Homo sapiens: one gene and its partners. The protein of the gene in region 2 purifies or fractionates together with the protein of the main gene of each other region. This does not show direct contact. Each region holds a gene or a part of one and is shown on either strand. Other genes may lie near its edges.

Region 1 (8,146 bases), on a different chromosome or scaffold from region 2:
AAATAGTTATTAAGACGACAAGATGAGGGAATAAATAAGGTGAACAACTAGGAATATATGAGTACTTAATTTCTGAGCTTGAACGGAAAGATCTGTTACACAAAGAATAAAGCCTAAACTACTTTTCATGCCCAAAACAATCTGAACTTGGTCTATCTTCCCAGTTAATCTTATGCCACCCTCCCCCTCACTTAGGAGCTCTGGCCCCAGTAGTTTTCTCTAAGTTCCTTGATCATGCTAAGTTTCTTTCTGCCTTCAAAGCTTTGGCACATGCTACACAGTCAGGGCCTTGGCCACTGCCTGCTACATAACAAGTGCTCAATAAGTATATGCAGAATGAATGAATATATCTTTGTCTTGACCTTTAAAATCCATCACATTAAAAAACATCTTTTAAACTGATAAGTTTTACAATGGTCTTTTTCCTTCTGTAAATGACAGTCATCTTTTTTTACATATATTAAATAATGTTTATTTACATTGCTGTTAAAAATACATGTTGAAAACCTTAAAAATACAAAGCATAGAAAACAATCATCCATAATTCTCCTACCCATAATTAATGCTAATATATTTATTTTTAACGTATTTTACATAGTTAATGTTATATCAACATAAAATTTGGAATCATCTCAGTTAATTTTATAGCATATAGTATAAGTTACATTCCCATGTCAGTAACTTTGTATTTTTCTTTGTAAACTTTGTAAACATTTTTTGTAGAGACAGGGTCTTGCTCTGTCACCCAGGCTGTAGTGGAGTGGCATGATCACAGCTTACTGCACTTTCAAACTCTTGGGCTCAAGCGATCTTCCCACCTCAGCCTCCTGAGTAGTTAGGACTACAGGCATGCACCACCATGCCTGGCATTTTTTTCTTTTTTGGTAGAGATGAGGACTCACTATAATGCCCAGGTTGGTCTCAAATTCCTGGCCTGAAGCAATCACCATGCCTGGCATTTTTTTCTTTTTTCCTTTTGGTAGAGATGAGGACTCACTCTATTGCCCAGGTTAGTCTCAAACTCCTGGCCTGAAGCAATCCTCCCACCGCCTCCCGAAGAGCTGGGATTACAGGTATAAGCCAGCATGCCCACCCAACAATTTTCAATGGTGATATAGTTTGGATATATGTCCCCTCCTCTGTCTCTGGTCCTTCTCCCCTCCTCTGCTTCTTCTCTGGCCATGTGAGGTGCCTGCTCCCACTTTGTCTTACCATGATTGTAAGCTTCCTGAGGCCCTCACCAGAAGCAGATGCTGGTGCTACACTTCTTGTATGGTCTGCAAAACTGTGAGCCAAAATAAACTTCTTTTCTTTATAACTTACCCAGCGCCTCAAGTATTCCTTTACAGCAACACAAAATGGACTAATACAAATGGCTATATAATACTCTATTCAGATAGCATCTAATCTATTTAATAGTTATTTTTCAGCATTTGCTATTAAAATTATGCATATACTAACTTAAATACTATACTATACTAACCTCAATGCCAAACTTCAATTACTTACTTATTTTAAACTAATTATCTATTGATTTTAAAAATCACCTAAAAATTTTAATTGGTTTATGACAGCAAAATATAGTTGACCCTTGAACAACACGGGTTTGAACTGCATGGGTCCACTTAAATACAAATTTTCTTTCATTTCTGCCACCCCTGAGACAACAAGACCAACCCTTCCTCTTGCTCTTCTTCCTTAGGCTACTCAATATGAAGACAGGGAAGATACTTTTATGATTATCTACTTCCACTTAATAGTATGTATGTTTTCTCTCCCTTATGGCTTGCTTAGTAACATTTTCTTTTCTCTAGCTTACTTTTAGTGTAAGAATACAGTATATAATACATAGACAAAATATGTGTTAACTCTTTATGTTATTGGTAAGGCTTCAAGTCAACAGTAGGCTATTAGTAAAGTTTTTGGGAGTCCAGAGTTATATGTGGATATTCAACTGTGTGGGGGCCGATGCCCATAACCCCCACATTGCTCAAGGGTCAGCTGTATACTATAAAGTTTGTTTTTTCCCCCAACCATTTCTGCTTCAAATCACAAGCACACTTCCTAAAATACCAGGGTCAATCTAATTCTAGTTCTGAGAATTATCTTGAGAAAAAGTTATTTTGTCTCTGTCATCTTTAGCTGCACACTATGGATGGCATGTAAAACATGTAAAAAGTTGTAGATTCTGCCAAACAACTTAAATAATGTTGATCATTTAAAAGCATTAAAAAATTCCTACTCATCCTAATTGTAGATGAATAAAGGAATTCCTTAGAAATGAATGGTATGCGTATAAAGCAGAATTTATTAATCCTAAATTCTTTTGTTCTGTTTTAAATTCTTTATTAGTCACAGTCTATTTAACATCATGAATGGTTAATAAAGTATTTACTCATATAACTAGTGGTATATATTTCCCTGAACAGTTCAAGAACCTCTGCTAAAATTCAGACCTCAATCATTAGAGAATACAAACATTAACTTAACCAAAGGTCTAAATGATGATACTCAGCACTGTATTTAAAAGCTTTTCTTCTTTAGAAACAATGAAATAAAATATATTCCAGATAATGGAAGTCTGGGGGAAATTAAGAGAATGGGAAGTGGCCGAAAGGTGAAAATGAACAGAAAGTTCAGCTACACACATACCACAAATTCTTCATCCACTTTATTTAATGTTAATTCTGCATCATCTTCTGCAACGCTTTCTTCTTCTAATTCTTCTACTGGGTATATTGGCCTAAAATAATAAGATTAAACATGAGGTGATAATTTTAATATTTAGTAAGACAAAAAAATCATAATGCAAATATCATGTCCTCTATGCCAGGTTTTGTCCTTTTTCATTCCGCTTCCATAATCACTGTTAAATGTTTCATGTATTTTTCCTAAAACTTTCTATGTAAAAAGCAAAAGTGTTTATCTCCAAATTTATAAAAAATGAGATGATACTATGCATGGTGTTATCCAACTTAATGCTTCTCACTAATACACCATATTTAAATACATATGTATTTCTCATTATTTTTTACATACAAGCACTGTATTTCATTGAACAATCAATACCATAATTAATGTAATTGGCAGCCTATGACTGAACATAGAGGTTTCTAATTATTTTGCTGGACAATATTGCAAAGATCATCTTTGTACATTTATCATTACACATACCATTTAGAATAAATTTGTTCAAGTGAAATGGCAGGGTAAACAACTTTGTACAGTATTGTTTTGCTATATACTGCCAAAATTGGCTTCCAAAATGTTACCCTAATTTAGACTCCAAACAATACTGAAGGAGAGTAACTCCATCTCCATATATTCACCAATATGATATATAATACAAACTTTAATTTTAGCCAATCAACCAAGTGAAAAAAAATCTCATTCTTGTTTTAACTGCATTTCTTTAGCATGAAAGTGATTGAATATCTTGTCATATTTTAATTGCTTATTTGCACTTCTTTTTAGGTGAAATGTCTATTTATACCATTTACTTTTTGGCTTTTTGTATATTAAGAAAATTAATGTTTTGCCTAACCTCTCAAAAATTGTTCCCCTAGTGTATTACTTATAATCTTGGCTATTCAAGATTGTTATAGTTCTTCTTAGATAGAGTTGGTAACCTTTTCCTGCACAGACCCTAGCTTTAACATCATATATTAGAGGCTTTCTGTCATACCACAACCTCTATACTCCTCTGGTCTTTTAATACTTCTATAGTTTTACTTTTCATATTTACATCTTTGATCAATCTGAAGTTTATTTTAACATAGGTAATAAGAAGGAGTCCAGCTTTCTTCTTATTTCCAAAATCTAATTAGTGATCCTAACATTAAACTTTGAAAAAAATCATTTATTCATCAAGATTAATGACACATTTCCTATATTAAAAGTACTTAAATGTATTTGGGCTTATTTATGAAAACATATTTTTTTTCCTTTTTTTAATCCAGTAACAAAGCTAGAGAGAAAACTTGTATTAAAAACTTGTACCTGGCTGGGTGTGATGGCTCACATCTATAATCCCAGCACTTTGGGAGGCCAAGGCAGGTGGACTGTCTGAGACCAGGAGTTTGAGACCAGCCTGGGCAACATGGTGAAACCCTGTCTTGACAAAAAAAATAAAAAATTAGCTGGGAGTGGTGGTGTGCACCTGTAGTCCCAGCTATGCGGGAGGCTGAGGTGGGAGGATCGCTTGAGCCCGGCAGGCAGAGGTTCACTCCAGCCTGGGCGACAGAGTGAGACCCTGTCTTAAAAACGAAAACCCATGCCTCAATCATGTTAAAAAAATACAAAAATCAACATTTACTAATATGCAAAATACTATGAACTAAATCAATCATCTTAAATAATAAATTTCCTAATTTTTCATTAATTAGAATTCGAAAATATCTCAAAGGCAATGTTCTTCTAGGATTCATTTTGACATTTAGATATATAAAAAATTCATCTATATGTAACGTCTATCTCATTTACATGTTACAGAGCTGACATATTCTCTAATGTTGACTACTTTTCAGCTCCCTCCTTTTATTCCTCATTTAAACATAGTCCTTATAAGTTATCCAAGTCACAGTCTCTTCAATAAATGGTGCTAAAAAACAAAAAAAGAAAAATAAATAGTACTGGGGAAACTGGATATCCACATGCAAAAGAATGAAACTAGACCCTTACCTCTAACCACTTATAAAAACCAACTCAAAATGGATTAAAGACTTAAATATACAATCTGAAACTGAAACTACTAGAGGAAATGTGGAAGAAAACACTTCATGACATTGGTCTGGGCAAGAATTTTTTGGATAAGACCTCAAAAGCACAGGCAACAAAAGCAAAAATAAACAAATGCGATTACATCAAACTTAAGGAAACAATCAAAAGAGTGAAGAGACAACCCACAGAATGGGAGAAAATATTTGCAAACTACCCATCTGACAAGAACTTAACATCCAGTATGTATAAGAAATTCAAGCAACTCAATAGCAAAACAACAACAAAAAAACTAGTCTAATTTTTAAAATGAGCAAAAGATCTTAATAGACATTTCTCAAAAAATACATAGAAACGGCCAACAGATATATGCAAAAATGCTTGACATCACTAATCATCAGGGAAACGCAAATCAAAACCACGATATCATCTCACCCCAGTTAGAATGGCTATTACCCAACCCCTCGCCCCCCAAAATAACAAAGGCTGCTGAGGATATGGAGAAGGGGTAACCCTTGAACACTATTGGTAGGTATGTAAATTATTAGTACAGACACTATAGCGAACACTATGGAGGTGCCTCAAAAAACTAAAAATAGCACTACTCTATTATCCAACAATCCCACTACTGATGATATATCCAAAAGAAATGTAATCGGTATGTTAGAGATATCTGCACTCCCATGTTTATTGCAGCACTATTCACAATACTCAAGATACGGAATCTGCCTAAGTATCCATCAAAGGTTGAATAGAAAATGTGGTATATTTTCACAGTGGAATACCATTCAACCATAAAAGAGAATGCAATTCTGTCATTTGTAGCAACCTGTATAAGCATGGAGGACACTATGTCAAGTGAAATAAGCCAGGCACAGAAAGACAAATATCATAGAAGTAGAGAGTATAATAGTGGTTACCATAGGATGGGAAGGGTAGGGGGAAGGGAGAATAGGGAGAAGTTGGTCAAAGTGGGTGAGTACAAAGTTACAGTTAGGAGGAATAAGTTCTAGTGTTCAATGCACAGCAGGGTGACTACAGTTCACAATATTATATATTAATTAACAATAATATATATTTGAAAATAGCTCATAGAGATTTGGAATTTTCTTGCCACAATAAAATGATAAACGTTTGAAATGATGAATATGTTAATTTCACTAACTTGATCATTGTATATTGTACACATGTATCGAAACATCACATTGTACTCCAAAATTTGCAGTTATGTGCCAATTAAAACTAAAAAATAAATTATCCAACTTACAATACAGAGGCCAGGAATAAGATGTGTTGAGAAACAAAGGAAGTGCAAAATAGAATAGTGGTTGAGATATTACACCATAGCTTCTGGTGAATTTAGAATATATTAGTCTATTAATTTAGCAGTTTTTTAAAATGCTAAATACAGCAGCACATCTCATAACTTATCTTCTCTTGAAATTTAATAAAGTATTATGGACCATGTAGCCATTCTTTATATTGTACTAAATAATAATGTTTGGATTGAAGCATATGAAATTGCCATTTTTTAGTTTAAAAATAGATGAATATGAGTAATTTCATATGGCTCATCCCAATGATAACCTAATTCAAGGAAGTTATTAAACTTAATAGGGAGATTATATCTAAAAGAATATAATTGAATATACATTAAAATGTTATTAACAGGGAATAATATATATATATGTGTGTGTGTGTATATAATCTTTCTACCGAAGTTAGTTCTAATTAAAAAAAAAAAAACACTGCTTACTCGCATTTTACCTGAATAGTGCCTTCTACATTCTAACCTATTAGTAATCCCAAACTGCAAAGCATAAAATTTATGTTTTCTAATTATAATCTCTATAAATTGAGTTTCCAAATGTTCTATTTCATCTATATGCTCAATATCTATTAAACATCTAAGATACACCAAGCATTATGCTAACAGAGTACTTGTGAAGATTTCATGATTTCTAGCAAGAATGTCAGAATAGTAAAGAACAATTTTATACCATAGGATAAATATAATATAATAATAGAAATAAAGCACTGTCAGGTTGGACACAAAAGCAATGAACAATGTCTAGGAGAGTGTCAGGTAGTTTCTTCAGTATTATTCTTGCCCAGTAACTACTAGCAAAGGAGAAAATCCCACTTAAAGTACTGTATTAATTTCCATTTTTCCTTAAATCTGTAGCTATCAGTTCCCTCTGTGTATATACTATGTTTGTGTGTGTGAACATATGTACAAGAGACTTTAAAAAAAAAGTCCAGTATTTACAAAGATATGTAGTCACAGTTAAACCTTTAATAATTACATATTTGAACAGGAAAACGGCATAATAATATGTAACACATTACTTCAGAATTAGTTTTGAAGACGTGAGACATTCTAATTTTGTCTATACTGGCTTTTCTTAATTATCTGTGGCATTTTCAATTTAGAATAGTCAAAAAGAATAATTCTTTTATGTTCAATTGAACAGCTCTGTACCCTCAGAGGCAAATGCTATGCCCATAAAATTACTATCATCAGGGTGGGTAATTTTTACCTTTTCCAGGTGAAACCAATATATTTCAATGCTTCTTCAGCGAAGCAATCAAGAACATAGCATACATGTTCTCCATAACCTGACTTTAATTTTGAAGGAGGAAAATCTGCAGTTCTTCCCTGAAAAACAAAAGAAAAAACAGGGTATTATTTGTTAGTTATACTCCAAATGTCAAATATTTTAAGCAAAGAACTGCTGAATGGATGTATCACTTTTCTTTCAAATGATTTACAATAACTGTAATTACACTGCTTCATACAAATCCATTTCAAGTCTTTGTAACCCATTGATACATAAAAATACTCAAAGACTTTTATTGTTAAAAGTATCAAATTAAAAAGCAATAACATCATAGCAGCAGAACAAATTATTGATCTTATTAGAGTGAAAAGAAACCAGTAAAACTATTTAAACAACTATGTTTAAGGACAGAGTGATTCACTTGTCAAAAATTAATAACATTTGTGCCAAAAATATCTTACTGCCTGCCCAGGAAAAGTCAGAAATGAAAAAGTACAACTGCTGTCATGGTCTTAAGTACAAGTTCCCTTTCAGAATATGAAGTGTTTTGGCTTTGTAGGATTTTTTTTTAATTATCATTTTTTAGATCAAGAATTAACCACCCCAAAATTTACCTCTCAGATATATCAAGATTTTTTTAAAAAAATATTACTTTGGACTAATAAAGAGTATATACTGAACATTTTCAGAAGTGACATTAACATTATAATGTAAACTATTTTAAGGAGGTTTTACCTAAAAATAAATTCATATTTACAGAGGAGTCATCTAAATGGCTAGCATTTGTTATTAAATTACCAGTATTAAAATTCATAACTTGAGAACAAGGAAAAAGAAGGGTCGTTTACACTTACAAATGACCGAAGCTC
Region 2 (5,267 bases):
ATGGGTCACACCAGTGACCAGGACTACAGACAGTCCTGCAGACCCATGATCAGCCCTCCTGAGCCTCAGCCTGGGGCTTTCTCCCCATGGAAACACAGAGGGGGTTGGGATGGGGTCTGGGGGCCCTGGCAGCGTTCTCAGGGTTGGGAGGGACTCTGGCTCTGGGCCTGTCTGAGGACCTAGCAACTCTGTCCCCCAGCTCGCAGGCAGGGATGATGCAAGAGGTGCTCTCCCCCACCCGCAGCCCTGCCCTCCCCTGGAGCCTGCTGCCCCCTCCGCTGGCTGGCTGCTGCCCCGCACCCCCAGCACACTCCTGTGCTCTTTGGGGGGTAAGACAGGAAGGGGAGATGGGCCCCAAGTTGTTACCTTAAAAGGGCTGATGGAAGCAAAGAGAAGAGGAAGTGGTTGTCGGGGTGAGAGCTGGGCCCGCGCCCCACATGGCTGTCACACAGGAAGCCCTGCTGAAGCAGCTGTCCCCGGAAGAAGCCATTTCCAAACCTCTGCTCCTGCCTGGGGCCAGTTGGGACAGGCTCCCTGGCCCCTCTCCTTTTGGGAGGACCCACCCCTGCAGCCCCACCACTCACACTCGCTCTCTGGGGAGCTGCCTCCACCCCCCCAGCCCCCATACACCTGTCCTGGCTCCAGGGCCAGTTGTGCCCATGGAAGCCTCACTCGGGGAAGCTGGGGTGGGGGTGCCAACCCTAAGGGCAGAGACAGACTGAGACAGAGACCGGCGGGAACTCTGCCAGGGTCTTGCACGGCCCCCAACCTCTGCCATGCGTGGCCAGCCCTCCTGGGGTTTGCCCAGGCCATTTTGGGACTGGAACAAGAGAAGAACAACCCGCCCCCGTCCCCACCCCAGGCCCTGGTCCAGCTCCCAGGGACACCACAGCTTTCCTCTCTGGGCCTCTCTGAAGGAGGTGTGGGGAGGTTGGATTGGGTTTGGGAGGCAAAAGCACCTCCAAGGCCCTGCTGTGCCTTTAGACTGGACGTGTGGACAAGAATGCGCCCACGGTCTGTGGCCACACAGCCCCTGTGCTAGACATCGCCTGGTGCCCGCACAATGACAACGTCATTGCCAGTGGCTCCGAGGACTGCACAGTCATGGTGAGTGGTGGTGGGGACCCAGGGGCTGGGAGAGGGGCTCTAGGATGGGATCTGACATTTGGAGTCCTGAAGACTCACTGGCCCCTCCTCTGCAGGTGTGGGAGATCCCAGATGGGGGCCTGATGCTGCCCCTGCGGGAGCCCGTCGTCACCCTGGAGGGCCACACCAAGCGTGTGGGCATTGTGGCCTGGCACACCACAGCCCAGAACGTGCTGCTCAGTGCAGGTGCTGCGGGAGGAGGGGCTTGGGGGTGGCTCGTGGCCTGCAGTGGATGAGGGCAGGAGGCTCATGGCTTCTGACACTGTGGGGAACGTGCAGGTTGTGACAACGTGATCATGGTGTGGGACGTGGGCACTGGGGCGGCCATGCTGACACTGGGCCCAGAGGTGCACCCAGACACGATCTACAGTGTGGACTGGAGCCGAGATGGAGGCCTCATTTGTACCTCCTGCCGTGACAAGCGCGTGCGCATCATCGAGCCCCGCAAAGGCACTGTCGTAGCTGTGAGTCGCCATCTACCCTGACCTTTGACCCTACAGCCTTTATCCTTCTTATCCACCATCAGCCAGGCCCTTGGATGCTGCCCTCCCTCGCCTCCACCTGGGACTGGCCCCGTAGGGTATGTACGGGTGCCTGACCTACCACCTCCCTTTCCTTGCAGGAGAAGGACCGTCCCCACGAGGGGACCCGGCCCGTGCGTGCAGTGTTCGTGTCGGAGGGGAAGATCCTGACCACGGGCTTCAGCCGCATGAGTGAGCGGCAGGTGGCGCTGTGGGACACAGTGAGTGCTGGGGCAGGAAGCCGAGGGCCCCCAGGCTGGGAACCAAGACTGGAGGTTTCGTCCCTGCTCTGCCACTCACCTGGCAGGATGGCCATGGGCCTCAGTTTACCCAGGCGTGAGATGGTTGTTCCCACTGGTTGGTCGGGAGGGCCCTCACAGGTCACTGCCCAGGGAAGACCACCATCCCAGGGCCTGGGATGTTACCTCTCACCTGTGTCTACAGAAGCACCTGGAGGAGCCGCTGTCCCTGCAGGAGCTGGACACCAGCAGCGGTGTCCTGCTGCCCTTCTTTGACCCTGACACCAACATCGTCTACCTCTGTGGCAAGGTGGCCTCGTCGGGCGGGGTGGGGGTGGGAGGTGGGCAGGATGGGCCTGGAGAGGGCCAGGGCAGTGGGCATCCGCTGGTATTGACCCTCCCTCCACACCTGCCACCTACAGGGTGACAGCTCAATCCGGTACTTTGAGATCACTTCCGAGGCCCCTTTCCTGCACTATCTCTCCATGTTCAGTTCCAAGGAGTCCCAGCGGGGCATGGGCTACATGCCCAAACGTGGCCTGGAGGTGAACAAGTGTGAGATCGCCAGGTGACTGACCCCCGGCCCTGACCGCAGCATGCTCCTTGGGCAGTGGGCAGTCCCAAGCCCACCCAACCAGACTGTGGGCCCCGCTCACCTTCCCCTTCCCACAGGTTCTACAAGCTGCACGAGCGGAGGTGTGAGCCCATTGCCATGACAGTGCCTCGAAAGGTGATGCTCCCCCGCCCCACCCTGGGCTCCAGGCTGGGCACTGACTTTGCGGTCTTGTGGGGGGTGTCCTGGCATAAGCGCTTTCCTCACTATCCCTGGCCTTGCCCACAGTCGGACCTGTTCCAGGAGGACCTGTACCCACCCACCGCAGGGCCCGACCCTGCCCTCACGGCTGAGGAGTGGCTGGGGGGTCGGGATGCTGGGCCCCTCCTCATCTCCCTCAAGGATGGCTACGTACCCCCAAAGAGCCGGGAGCTGAGGGTCAACCGGGGCCTGGACACCGGGCGCAGGAGGGCAGCACCAGAGGCCAGTGGCACTCCCAGCTCGGTGAGAGGGCTGGGAAGCCAGGGAATAAAACTGGGAGGGTGGGGTGGGGCTGGTGTTTGGGGCACCTCAAACTCACAACATTGGGAATCTTTGTGGGTCCGGGAATGGTAATCCTGAGGCCTCAGAACACAGGTTTCAGATTGATAGGCCTGCAGGTCTCCAGGCAGCAACCAGCTGAGCGACTAAAGGGCCCAAGGCCAGGGCTCTAGGGATGGGGCTCAGCAGAGGCTGGGGTAAGGGGAGCCAGGGAGGAGCTGGGCCTAATGCAGCACCGGGTCCCCAGGATGCCGTGTCTCGGCTGGAGGAGGAGATGCGGAAGCTCCAGGCCACGGTGCAGGAGCTCCAGAAGCGCTTGGACAGGCTGGAGGAGACAGTCCAGGCCAAGTAGAGCCCCGCAGGGCCTCCAGCAGGGTCAGCCATTCACACCCATCCACTCACCTCCCATTCCCAGCCACATGGCAGAGAAAAAAATCATAATAAAATGGCTTTATTTTCTGGTACCTCCCAGACTCTGATGACTGGTCCCCTAGACACGCAGTTTGCTGAACCAACCAGCCCTAGAGCTTCCCCTCCACCGCGCTGAGGGGACTGACCCATGGCAGGGGATGTGGGATGCCCCCTGACTTACTACATCACAGGAACAGGGCCTTCGTGGGTAGAAACCAGCCATGCTGATGTGGGCCAGGAGGCTGCTCTCCGTTTCCGAGCTCCTTCTCAGAGCTGACACAGCTGAACTATTTAAGGCCCTAGCTTAGAACCTCAATAATTCCCAAATTTACCAAAAATCTGCCTTTCCTAGTCAACCAAAACATCACGTTGCACGTGACTCTGCTGGCACTGTTGCTTGTGAGGAAATGAACCAACCATCACTTACAGGGTAGGCATCTTTTAAACTGCAGGTCCAAAGATAAAAATAACGAGGGAGGCTGGGCATGGGGACTCACGTCTATAATCCCAGCACTGTGGGAGGCTGAGGCGGCAGGATCATTTGAGCCCAGGAGTTTGAGACCTGCCTGAGCAACACGGCGAGATACCGTCTCTACGAAAAATAAAATAAAAAATTAGCCAGGCATGGTGGTGGGCACCTATAGTTCCAGCTACTCAGGAGGCTGAGGCAGGAGGATCCCTTGAGCCCAGGAGGTCGAGGCTGCAATGAGCCATTGCACCACTGCACTGCAGCCTGGGTGACAGAGCAAGACACTGTCTCTAAAAAATATAAATAGGCCGGGTGTGGCAGCTCACGCCTGTAATCCCAGCACTTTAGGAGGCCGAGGTGGGTGAATCACCTGAGGTCAGAAGTTCGAGACCAGCCTGGCCAACATGGTGAAACCCCATCTCTACTAAAAATACAAAAATTAGCTGGGCATGGTGGCAGGCGCCTGTAATCTCAGCTACTCAGGAGGCTGAGGCAAGAGAATTGCTTGAATCCGGGAGGCAAAGGTTGCAGTGAGCCGAGATCATGCCATTGTACTCCAGCCTGGGGGACAGGAGTGAGACTTCGTCTCAAAAAAAAAAAAAAATATATATATATATATATATATATATTTTTTAAATGTATAAATACATCATATATATTTTAATATATAAATATATTATATATATTATATATTTTAATATATAAATATATTATATATAATATATTTTAATATATAAATATTATATATATTATATTTTAATATATAAATATTATATATATTAATTATATATTTTAATATATAATATATATTATATTATATAATAATAAATTATATATTATATTATATAGTAATAAGTTATATATTATACTATATAATAATATAGTATAATATATAATATATATTATAATATATATTATATTATATTATATTATATTATATATTATAATATAAATTATATATATTTTATATATATGTTTTATATATTATATATTTTAATATATGAAACAGGGGAACTTCTTCTAAGGAAAAGACAGAATTAAGGCAACAGGCTGATCCTAGTTTACCAGAGAAGAAACTGAGGCCGGGAGCAGGAGCCCAGCTCACTGAAGGGCAGATCCCAAGTCAGAGTCCAAGTCTCCCCACTTTTTTATTTATTTAATTTTTTCTGAGATGGAGTTTCATTCTTGTTGCCCAAATTGAGTACAATGGCACAATCTCGGCTCACCGCAACCTCTGCCTTCTGGGTTCAAGCCATTCTCGTGCCTCAGACTCCCAAGTAGCTGGGATTACAGGCATGTGCCACCACGTCCGGCTAACTTTTGTGTTTTCAGTAGAGGTGGGGTCTCACCATGTTGGCCAGACTGGTCTCAAACTCCTGGCCTCAAGT
Region 3 (8,146 bases), on a different chromosome or scaffold from region 2:
TTTTATTTTTTGGATTATTCATTGCTAGTGTACAGAAAGACAATTGATTTTTGTGTCTTGATTTTGTATCTTGCAACTTTGCTGAACTCATTTGTTTTTTGTTTTTGTTGAAGCATTTCCACAGTTGATGTATTAATTCAAATAGTAAAAACTATTCCTAGTAAAAACTAATCCTAAGTGGATTCCTTAGGATTTTCTTTATATAAGATCATGCCTTGAGCATTTTTAACCCTACTCCCCCGGCTGTTGTAGGAAGAGTGCTGGCCCTGGGGAAGCCCCTTCCTCACCCAGGCTTCACACATTTGACCCTGGCTCTCTCTCAGGAGGACCCCTCGCTGGAAAGGCATTTTAAGGGCCACCGAGATGCAGTTACCTGTGTGGACTTCAGTATCAACACAAAGCAGCTGGGTAAGAAGAGGCACCCTGTCTAGGTGCTAGGTTATGAGCTGAACAGGCCAAGTTTTTACCTCGGAGGGGTGGTGGGTGGGAAGCAGAGCACAAGGACTGCACAGCTTTGTCTAGACCTGCTTCTAGTCTTGCTTCTGCTTGCCAGCTCTTTGGGCACTGGGCTTCATGAGCTTCATTTTACATGCAGAGCCTGAGGGTCAGAGAGGTTAGGGGCCTTGCTAAGGCCACAGAGCTTTTGAGGGTGGGACTGGGATCTGGGTCTTTTCTGCACACCCTAGCCACCTTTTGGGTCTGTCTTTTGGTGTGGGCCCTAAACAGTGACTCCTTTTCCTTGAAGCTTTACTGATTCTGTTGCCCACAGTAATAAGGCACACCTTGTTGAAGAGCCTTGTCAGTGAGAAGGCTGTTGAGCAGAGATGGGCACCCCCCTCGACCCCACTGCTCTTATGCTGCAGCTGACTGTCCCCCTTCCTTGGTTGCATGAGGTTTCGTACACAGCTTTTATGACTGCGCTTTCTGGTTCCTGCAGAGGAGGCTTGCCCCTTCATCCTGTCATCAAGACCCTCTGATGTGTAAAGGTTAAGAGGGAACTGAAGTGATTTTTGATCAGTTTTGGGGACCTCCTTTAGGCTTCATACTGAGTTGGGCCCTCTCAATGGGAGGGGCTGGCTTCCCAGCTGGGGAGGACTTGCTCTCTGGTGCCCTCAGGATGTGTCTGGGGGGAGACCCTGGGCCCCATGGGAATGAGTTTTCCCAGAGCTCTGGATTGCAGTCCAAGGCTAGCATGGGAAGGGCCTCGGTCTTATTCCCATGTGGGTGTGCTCCTTGGAGAACTCTGGGCCACAGGCTCTCCACCTCCAGACCATACCTCGAGATGTGCTCTGCTCCATGGGAGACTTCTCACGGTCTGTTTGTGGATGCCAGGGAAGATGGAGCTGGGCCAGTTGCTCCCCCTGCCTCTCCAATGTCTTGGTGGAGGCTTGAAGCCTGTTAGAGCTGTAGGTCATAGCATCACCCACTGTCCTCAGCCAGTGGCTCCATGGACTCATGCCTCATGGTCTGGCACATGAAGCCGCAGTCACGCGCCTACCGCTTCACTGGCCACAAGGATGCCGTCACCTGTGTGAACTTCTCTCCTTCGGGACACCTGCTTGCTTCCGGCTCCCGAGACAAGACTGTCCGCATCTGGGTACCCAATGTGTGAGTCGTACACTTTGAGGAGGCTTGTTGGAGTCTGGGGCCCTGGTGCCAGAGCCATCCCCACCCAGGTCCCCTAGCTTGGCTCTGGACTGGTCACAGTGGGACTTCTACTCTGCTTTGGAAGAGGTGCCATCAGAGGCTGGGGCTGCAGTTGGAGCCCTCCCCTCAGGGTTGGAAGAGGAGTTCTGGGCTTACCCAATCTATCCCTAAAGAAATGCCACCTGATGCTGTGTTCATGTGGGTGGGGCCTAGAGATGGTGCTCTGTTCATATAGGAGAGGCTCTGGCTTTCCCTTGTGGAGACTGGGGTACTCGGGCTTGACTGACTTTGGGAGGGGTGCTTGAGGAGTAGGAGAGCTTTGATGTGCTTGTGGGCTCTCATGTCACTGTTATGGGTTTCCTTACTCTTGGATGCCTGTCCTTGTAGCAAAGGTGAGTCCACTGTGTTTCGTGCACACACAGCCACAGTGAGGAGTGTCCACTTCTGCAGTGATGGCCAGTCCTTCGTGACAGCCTCTGACGACAAGACAGTCAAAGTGTGGGCAACTCATCGCCAGAAATTCCTGTTCTCCCTGAGCCAGCATATCAACTGGGTCCGCTGTGCCAAGTGAGCATTGTTCTGTCTGGAGACCCTTGGAGGAACCCTGGGGGTTGGGGGCTGGCCCAGGGGCTGCTAGGTACCAACTTATGACCTCGGGCAAGTTACTTAGGCATTGTTTAAGCTTCCTCAGCCTCGGTTTCCTTATCTGTAAAATGGAACAATAATAGCTCCTGCATTGTAAGTTGTCGAGAAGCTTCATGGAGCTGATGCATGACATGTAAGTTAGTCCATAGTCAGCCATGATGACCCTCTGACATCTGTGTTGGCAAAGCACAAACTGGGTCAACAGGGGCCATTTATTATCAAAAACAATTAGGTACTTTCAGTACTACCATTACACATTTTCTTTTTGTTCCTTAAGACAGTTCTGCAAGCTAGGTGCATTTCCATTTTGCAGATGAGGAAATGGGGGCTCAGAACAGTAGTATCTTGTCCCAGAGCACACGGTGGGTCTGTGGCAGAGCTGGAGTTTGAACCCAACTCTCTCTGACAGTAAGGCTTGCCTACTTTCCTCTGGGATGTTCTCAGGGGATGATTTTGCTCCAGAGCTCCCAGATGGGGGCGCAGGCTTCGGAGATGGGGGGCTTAGCCTGGAGGCTAGCCTTCCTGCTGGCCAGGGAGCCAGTGCTGTGCAGACAGCGGGCCAGGTAACCCAAAGGACCTTTCAAGGTCCAAGAATTGCAGACAGATAGTCCTACTTCTAGCTTATTTCATTCCTTTCAACAGAGCTTCCCCATGGGTCAAATATCTTTGCTTCAGAGGAAGGGGTTGGGGTGCCAGGTGACATTAGGAAACCACATGAGTCAGAAGTTGGGGACTATTGAGCTGTGTTCTTCTGGGGACCCCATACAAGTTACTGTTCTCCAGGGCACCCCCATTCCTTTGTCCTGGGAGACCCCTGATGGCTCTTAGAGGCTTTATGACTAGGGTCCTGAGATCAGGAGGGGCCAGGCCAGCAAACTGGGGTGTCAAGTCCATACTGGGCCTTTGGTGGCAGTCCCCAGGACCTCATGCCTTTTGTTGGCAGATTGTGTCTTGCTGACCCGCACTTGAGTCAAATGTAGACTCGGAGGACCTGGTCCCAGAGTAATGACACTGATGGTGAGCTTTTGGCCACCTTTATGCAAATGTTGCCGGCAGGCAGTCGGCTGCATGTTGCCATGTGCTGTGCGTCAGGGGCAGTGCTGGGGCTTTATGTGCATGAGGCTGCTCTGTGCTCACTCGTGAGGCAGGCACCTTTTTTTTTTTCTTTTCTTTTTGTTTATTTATGTTTGGTTTTCCTCTAAGTCAGGAAGAATTTCTCTTTTTCCCTTTTGGTCAGAGTTTGCTGTTGGGATGGGAGAGGGGCTATTTGCTCATGAAGCTACGTAAGAAAACGAAAACAAGAGCAACAGGAAAGATCAATAAGTTTCACAGATTCAGGAAGAAAAAAATAAAGGAAACATTTTTATAACATTTAAAATTAAGTCATAGGCCGAGCTTGAAGGTGCATGTCTGTAATCCTAGCACTTTGGGTGGATGAGGTGGGAGGATCCTTTGACTCCAGGAGTTAGAGGACCAGCCTGGGCAACATAGTGAGACTCCCATCTCTACAATAAAATAAAATAAAATAAAATTAGCTGGGTGTGGTGGTGCACGCCTGTAGTCCCAGCTGCTCAGGAGGCTTAGGTGGGAGGATCTCTTGAGCCCAGGAGGTAGAGGCTGCAGTGAGCTGAGATCACACCACTGCACTCCAGCCTGGGTGACAGAGCAATACCCTGTCTAAAAAACAAAACAAAAACAAAAACAAAATTTAGTCACAGTTTCCTGAAAAACTCTTCAGAAGGAAAAAAGAAAAATGATGTGCTAAAAGTTAACTATTTTCAGAAACAAAGTATAATTTAAGATATGACCAAATAAACAGAAGTAACATTGCCTCCTAGGATGCAATGCATTTGTTCCTGAAAAGACAAATTAGGGTATTCAAATTAAAAAAAAAAAAATCACAGCAGGGCATGTGACCCCGGGTGGTTCCTGCAGGCAGATAGTAGGCACTCGGGGAAGAGTGGCTGTGGAAGAAGGTGTGTGGTGCCCATGTCGTCTGTTAGTCTGTGATGTGACTTGTGCCCCACCCGGTTCAGGTTCTCCCCCGACGGGCGGCTCATCGTGTCTGCCAGTGATGACAAGACTGTTAAGCTGTGGGACAAGAGCAGCCGGGAATGTGTCCACTCGTATTGTGAGCATGGCGGGTGAGTCCCCAGATGCTGTCCTCCACCTGTAGGCGCTCAAGCACAGAGCACAGACCTGGGCATGAGGAGGCCCAGTGGCCTTCAGTGGCTGGAGCCGTGGGACCAGCAGCCTTATCACTGCTGCCCCTTGTCTGGTGCTTTTTGCGAGGTCTGGCAACCTAGCATTGTATCTTTTGCTGTGTGGATGGAAGCTTTGGCCCCATCCCACAAATAGCAGGAGTGCTTAACCTCAAGCCATGCAATTCTTTGGAGCTGTGTAATTATTTGTGCTCCTCTTTTTCTCCTTCACTTTCTGGTTGTCAGGATTACAACATGTCTGTCTGGCAGCAGTTGACACTCAGTCGCCCAAACTACATTTTAAAGCCTCTTGGTATGTTATCCATGATGATGGCTTTACAAAATTCTTGTTGGGTTCTTGTAGCAGATGGTGGCTGTTCATATTGTGCCACATCATCAGGAGAGAGAGGTGCCTACATTTGAGTAGAGACCCCAGCTTCTGCCCTTCTTTGTTGGGCTGGGAGCCACAAGGGCTTCTCCTTGAGAGGTGGACATGGTACCAGCCTGGGTATCACATATGGGTGTGGTGAGGGTCCTTGGCCTGTCTCCTAGAAAGGGGTGGGCCAATGGCCCTGTAGTCCTGCTGGACCTTCCCACCTGTGCCTCAGCTGGCAGGATCTGCCCTGCAGCCACCCCTGGGAAGGGTACCAGCTCCAACTTTGAAAATCCCAGGGGAGCCTGGCTAACTTTTGGGTTTGAAGATAGCTCTCTCAACTTGTATTGAAAATTGGCGGTGGGATGTGCTCCCTGGTCAGTCCACCTTAGTTTGTTGCTGGCCACTGTTCTCACCTTTTACTTCTTCTTGCTCTCCCTTGGCCACCTGGTAAACAAGTGTGACAGAAAGGAGGTGTCTGGGTCAAGGGAACAGCGTGGGCAGGACACAGGGATGGGGAAAGCACCAAATGTTTCTGGGTCCGTCCTGAACCAGGGCAGACCTCCTATAGTGCATAGTGGCCCCTGTCTTTCCAGCTTTGTCACCTATGTGGACTTCCACCCCAGTGGGACGTGCATTGCCGCTGCCGGCATGGACAACACAGTGAAGGTGTGGGACGTGCGGACTCACCGGCTGCTGCAGCATTATCAGTGTGAGTGGTGAACAGCCTCCTGGGCCCAAGGGCAGCCCTGGTGGGACTGTGATGGTGTTGGATGTTGTCCTGTGCTGTAGTGCTTAAATGGGTCTGAGATGGCCTTGGGCAGGAAGGTGTCCTGGGTTTGTTGGGATTCCAGGGGTGGGAGTCTGTGGCATGGCTGGCCTGGCTTGGAACCTTGGCCAGGAGATGGAGCCTGGTGCTACCTGGCTTCCACTGAGCCAGTCAATGCTCACCTCCGAAGTGGCAGAATCTCACACATACTGCAGGGCCAGATGGGGAGTCCTCACTGGGGCTCTGGTCAGGGCTTCCCTTGAGGACCACTTCTCAGGGGCATGCCACTTGCCTTTCCTGGTGATGGAGGCTCTGCCCTCCAGGGCCAAGGTGACAGCCCTTGACCTGTGGTAAAGGGAACAGGGCTGTCAGTAGAGGCCAGCATTGGTGGGACCGTGGCCACCTCTGGTCTTACAGTGTCCTCCGCAGATGTAGAGTCATAGGGAGGGTTGACTTAGCTAGGGGCCAGGCCCAGGATGGTAGCCCTTGGAAGGCAGGGTGGCGGGCAGTGGGCATGGGCTCATGTCAGGCTCCAGGTGGGAGTTGGAGGGCGAGGGCAGACTTAGACATGCCCAGGATGAGTTCGCTGAGAGTACTGGGTAGGGAACTGGCCTGAGAGCAAGTATGAGTGGGCAGGGCCATGAGGCGCCCCAGTTCCAGGGATGGGCTCAGGGAAGGGAGCTGGTGAGGGGTCATTGGAGAAACTGGGAATTGTGTAGCTGGCAAAACAGAGATGAGCAAGACTGGACCAGGGCCGAGACCAGGAAGGAGGCAGAGCTGGAGTTGTTTGAAGAACCGTGGTTGTTAACCTGGGACTAAGCTTAAAGTTCTTGGGCTCGCTTCCTTAAGCCACACCTGAAATGGGAAGGACATGGCTGGACACAGGTGTGGGGTTCCGACCCCACCCACCCCTGACACACACACACCCTTCCTAGCTGACTCCTGGTGTTCAAGTACAGCACTTTCTTTGGGGTAACAGAGGTGAGCACACCTTCCCAGAATGGGGAGAAGATCCTAATCTTGAACAGCACATGGTGGAGAGTGGGCTCTGCAGCTGGCTTTTAAAGCATTCCTGGCTGTGTGATATTGGGCAGGTCATTTGACTCTGTGGGGCCTCTGGGACAATGATGGGGCCTGTCTCACAGGAGGTGTTGGGAGGTTTAATGAGTTGTTTCATATCAAGAATTGAGAGGGTGGCTGGCACAAAATGGGGGGAAGGAGGTACAATGTTAGTGATGATGACAATGACACTGTCTTGGTCCTGTCTGGGCTGGTGAGGCCAACCTGGTTGGTTAAGGCCTGTAGTACCCTACAGCACCACCAGGTGGCAGGGGCCAGCCACAAGAACCTGTTCCCCCACCCCACCCCCCTCCATAGGAAGCCCTGAGGTTTGTTACCAATGCTCTTTCAGACAGAGGCTTCTGGAACAGAAGAGCAGTGGGGCTTGCCTCCACTTGGAGCCCATATCTTTCCTATCCTTCCTTCAGCCTTCTGCTCTGGGCCAGGCCTGAGTGAAGGGCTGGGGCTTGGGGATGGGGCACATCTGCCCAGCTGCCTGGGGAACGTGGGCAGGTGCAGAGGAGGGAGGACTTGGACAGGGAGAGATGGGAGTGGAAGGCGACGAGGCAGGACAGTGGTCAGGAGCACATGCTGTGGTTCCTTTCTGTAAAGGGGGTGGCAATAGGCCTTCCTCATGGCTTTGTGAGGCTCTGATGGGAAAAGCCACAAAAGGGTTATAACACAGGGCTAGGTATGTGGTTTGTGCTACATAAGTCCTGACACTGGGCAGAGAGGATGTCTAGGTGACCCTGGGAGGGTCCAGACCCATCTCTGATGGATCAGGAGCCTGGGCCTGGTGTTCATGGGTATAACAGCAGGTACCCCTTGGGAAGGGCCTTGGATGCCATCTCTGGCTCGGGGTCCCAAAGATGTGGCCTGATTGGCAGTGCTAGGACTAGCCTCGTCATTTAAGGTATGAAGGGAAGAAGGACATCTGAGAGGATAGCGGTGTCCAGAGCCTGCTGGGGTTGGGGGCTGGTGTGCCCCATGTGTCCCAGTGATGGGTAGGTGTCCAGCTGTGCCTGGTATCAAAGTAGGGGCTGGCATCAGAGTGGGGGATGGGTTGCAGAGGTTGAGTAGAAGCAGAGAAGCTGACCCTGTTGGGGTGGAGGGGCCAGCTGGACCCAGGGATCTGGGATGTGAGAATGGCTGAGGTCACATTCTGAGCCCCTATAATTGAGGGGCCACAGAAGATAAAGGTCCACAAAGCAGCCAGAGTGAGAGGTATGAACCCCGTCTCCAAGCATGGGAGAGCTGAGGAGGGCAGAGGCTGGGGAGTGAAGGAGAGTGGGGTCTTGTGAAGAGGGTTGTCAGGAGGTGGAGCAATGCAGAGCAGCCGAGGAGAGCGGTGGGTACTGGGGAGAGGGAGCTGGGGACCTGGAGGGAGCAGGCTTGGCAGAGGGCAGGGGCGGATCTCCATGATGGCAGGGTTGGGGAGGTGTGGATGGACTC

The links. Proteins that work in one complex are often made in the same cells at the same time.
Region 1: the proteins of CORO1A (region 2) and IFT57 purify together in Homo sapiens (affinity purification with mass spectrometry; 5 studies listed by BioGRID and IntAct, with this or other methods). This does not show direct contact.
Region 3: the proteins of CORO1A (region 2) and POC1A purify together in Homo sapiens (affinity purification with mass spectrometry; 5 studies listed by BioGRID and IntAct, with this or other methods). This does not show direct contact.

What each region holds. Positions count from the first base shown.
Region 1 is NC_000003.12:108,211,279-108,219,424, forward strand, and holds part of IFT57 (intraflagellar transport protein 57 homolog), read right to left. Parts: coding exon 8,132-8,146; intron 7,376-8,131; coding exon 7,257-7,375; intron 2,744-7,256; coding exon 2,653-2,743; intron 1-2,652. UniProt on the Homo sapiens protein: Required for the formation of cilia. Plays an indirect role in sonic hedgehog signaling, cilia being required for all activity of the hedgehog pathway.
Region 2 is NC_000016.10:30,185,614-30,190,880, forward strand, and holds the end of CORO1A (coronin-1A), read left to right. Parts: intron 1-984; coding exon 985-1,107; intron 1,108-1,202; coding exon 1,203-1,332; intron 1,333-1,425; coding exon 1,426-1,610; intron 1,611-1,768; coding exon 1,769-1,888; intron 1,889-2,111; coding exon 2,112-2,216; intron 2,217-2,328; coding exon 2,329-2,474; intron 2,475-2,578; coding exon 2,579-2,636; intron 2,637-2,747; coding exon 2,748-2,963; intron 2,964-3,246; coding exon 3,247-3,351; 3' UTR 3,352-3,463; downstream 3,464-5,267. UniProt on the Homo sapiens protein: May be a crucial component of the cytoskeleton of highly motile cells, functioning both in the invagination of large pieces of plasma membrane, as well as in forming protrusions of the plasma membrane involved in cell locomotion.
Region 3 is NC_000003.12:52,143,278-52,151,423, reverse strand, and holds part of POC1A (POC1 centriolar protein homolog A), read left to right. Parts: intron 1-252; exon of another isoform or gene 253-323; coding exon 324-408; intron 409-1,436; coding exon 1,437-1,608; intron 1,609-2,034; coding exon 2,035-2,214; intron 2,215-4,328; coding exon 4,329-4,436; intron 4,437-5,462; coding exon 5,463-5,578; intron 5,579-8,146.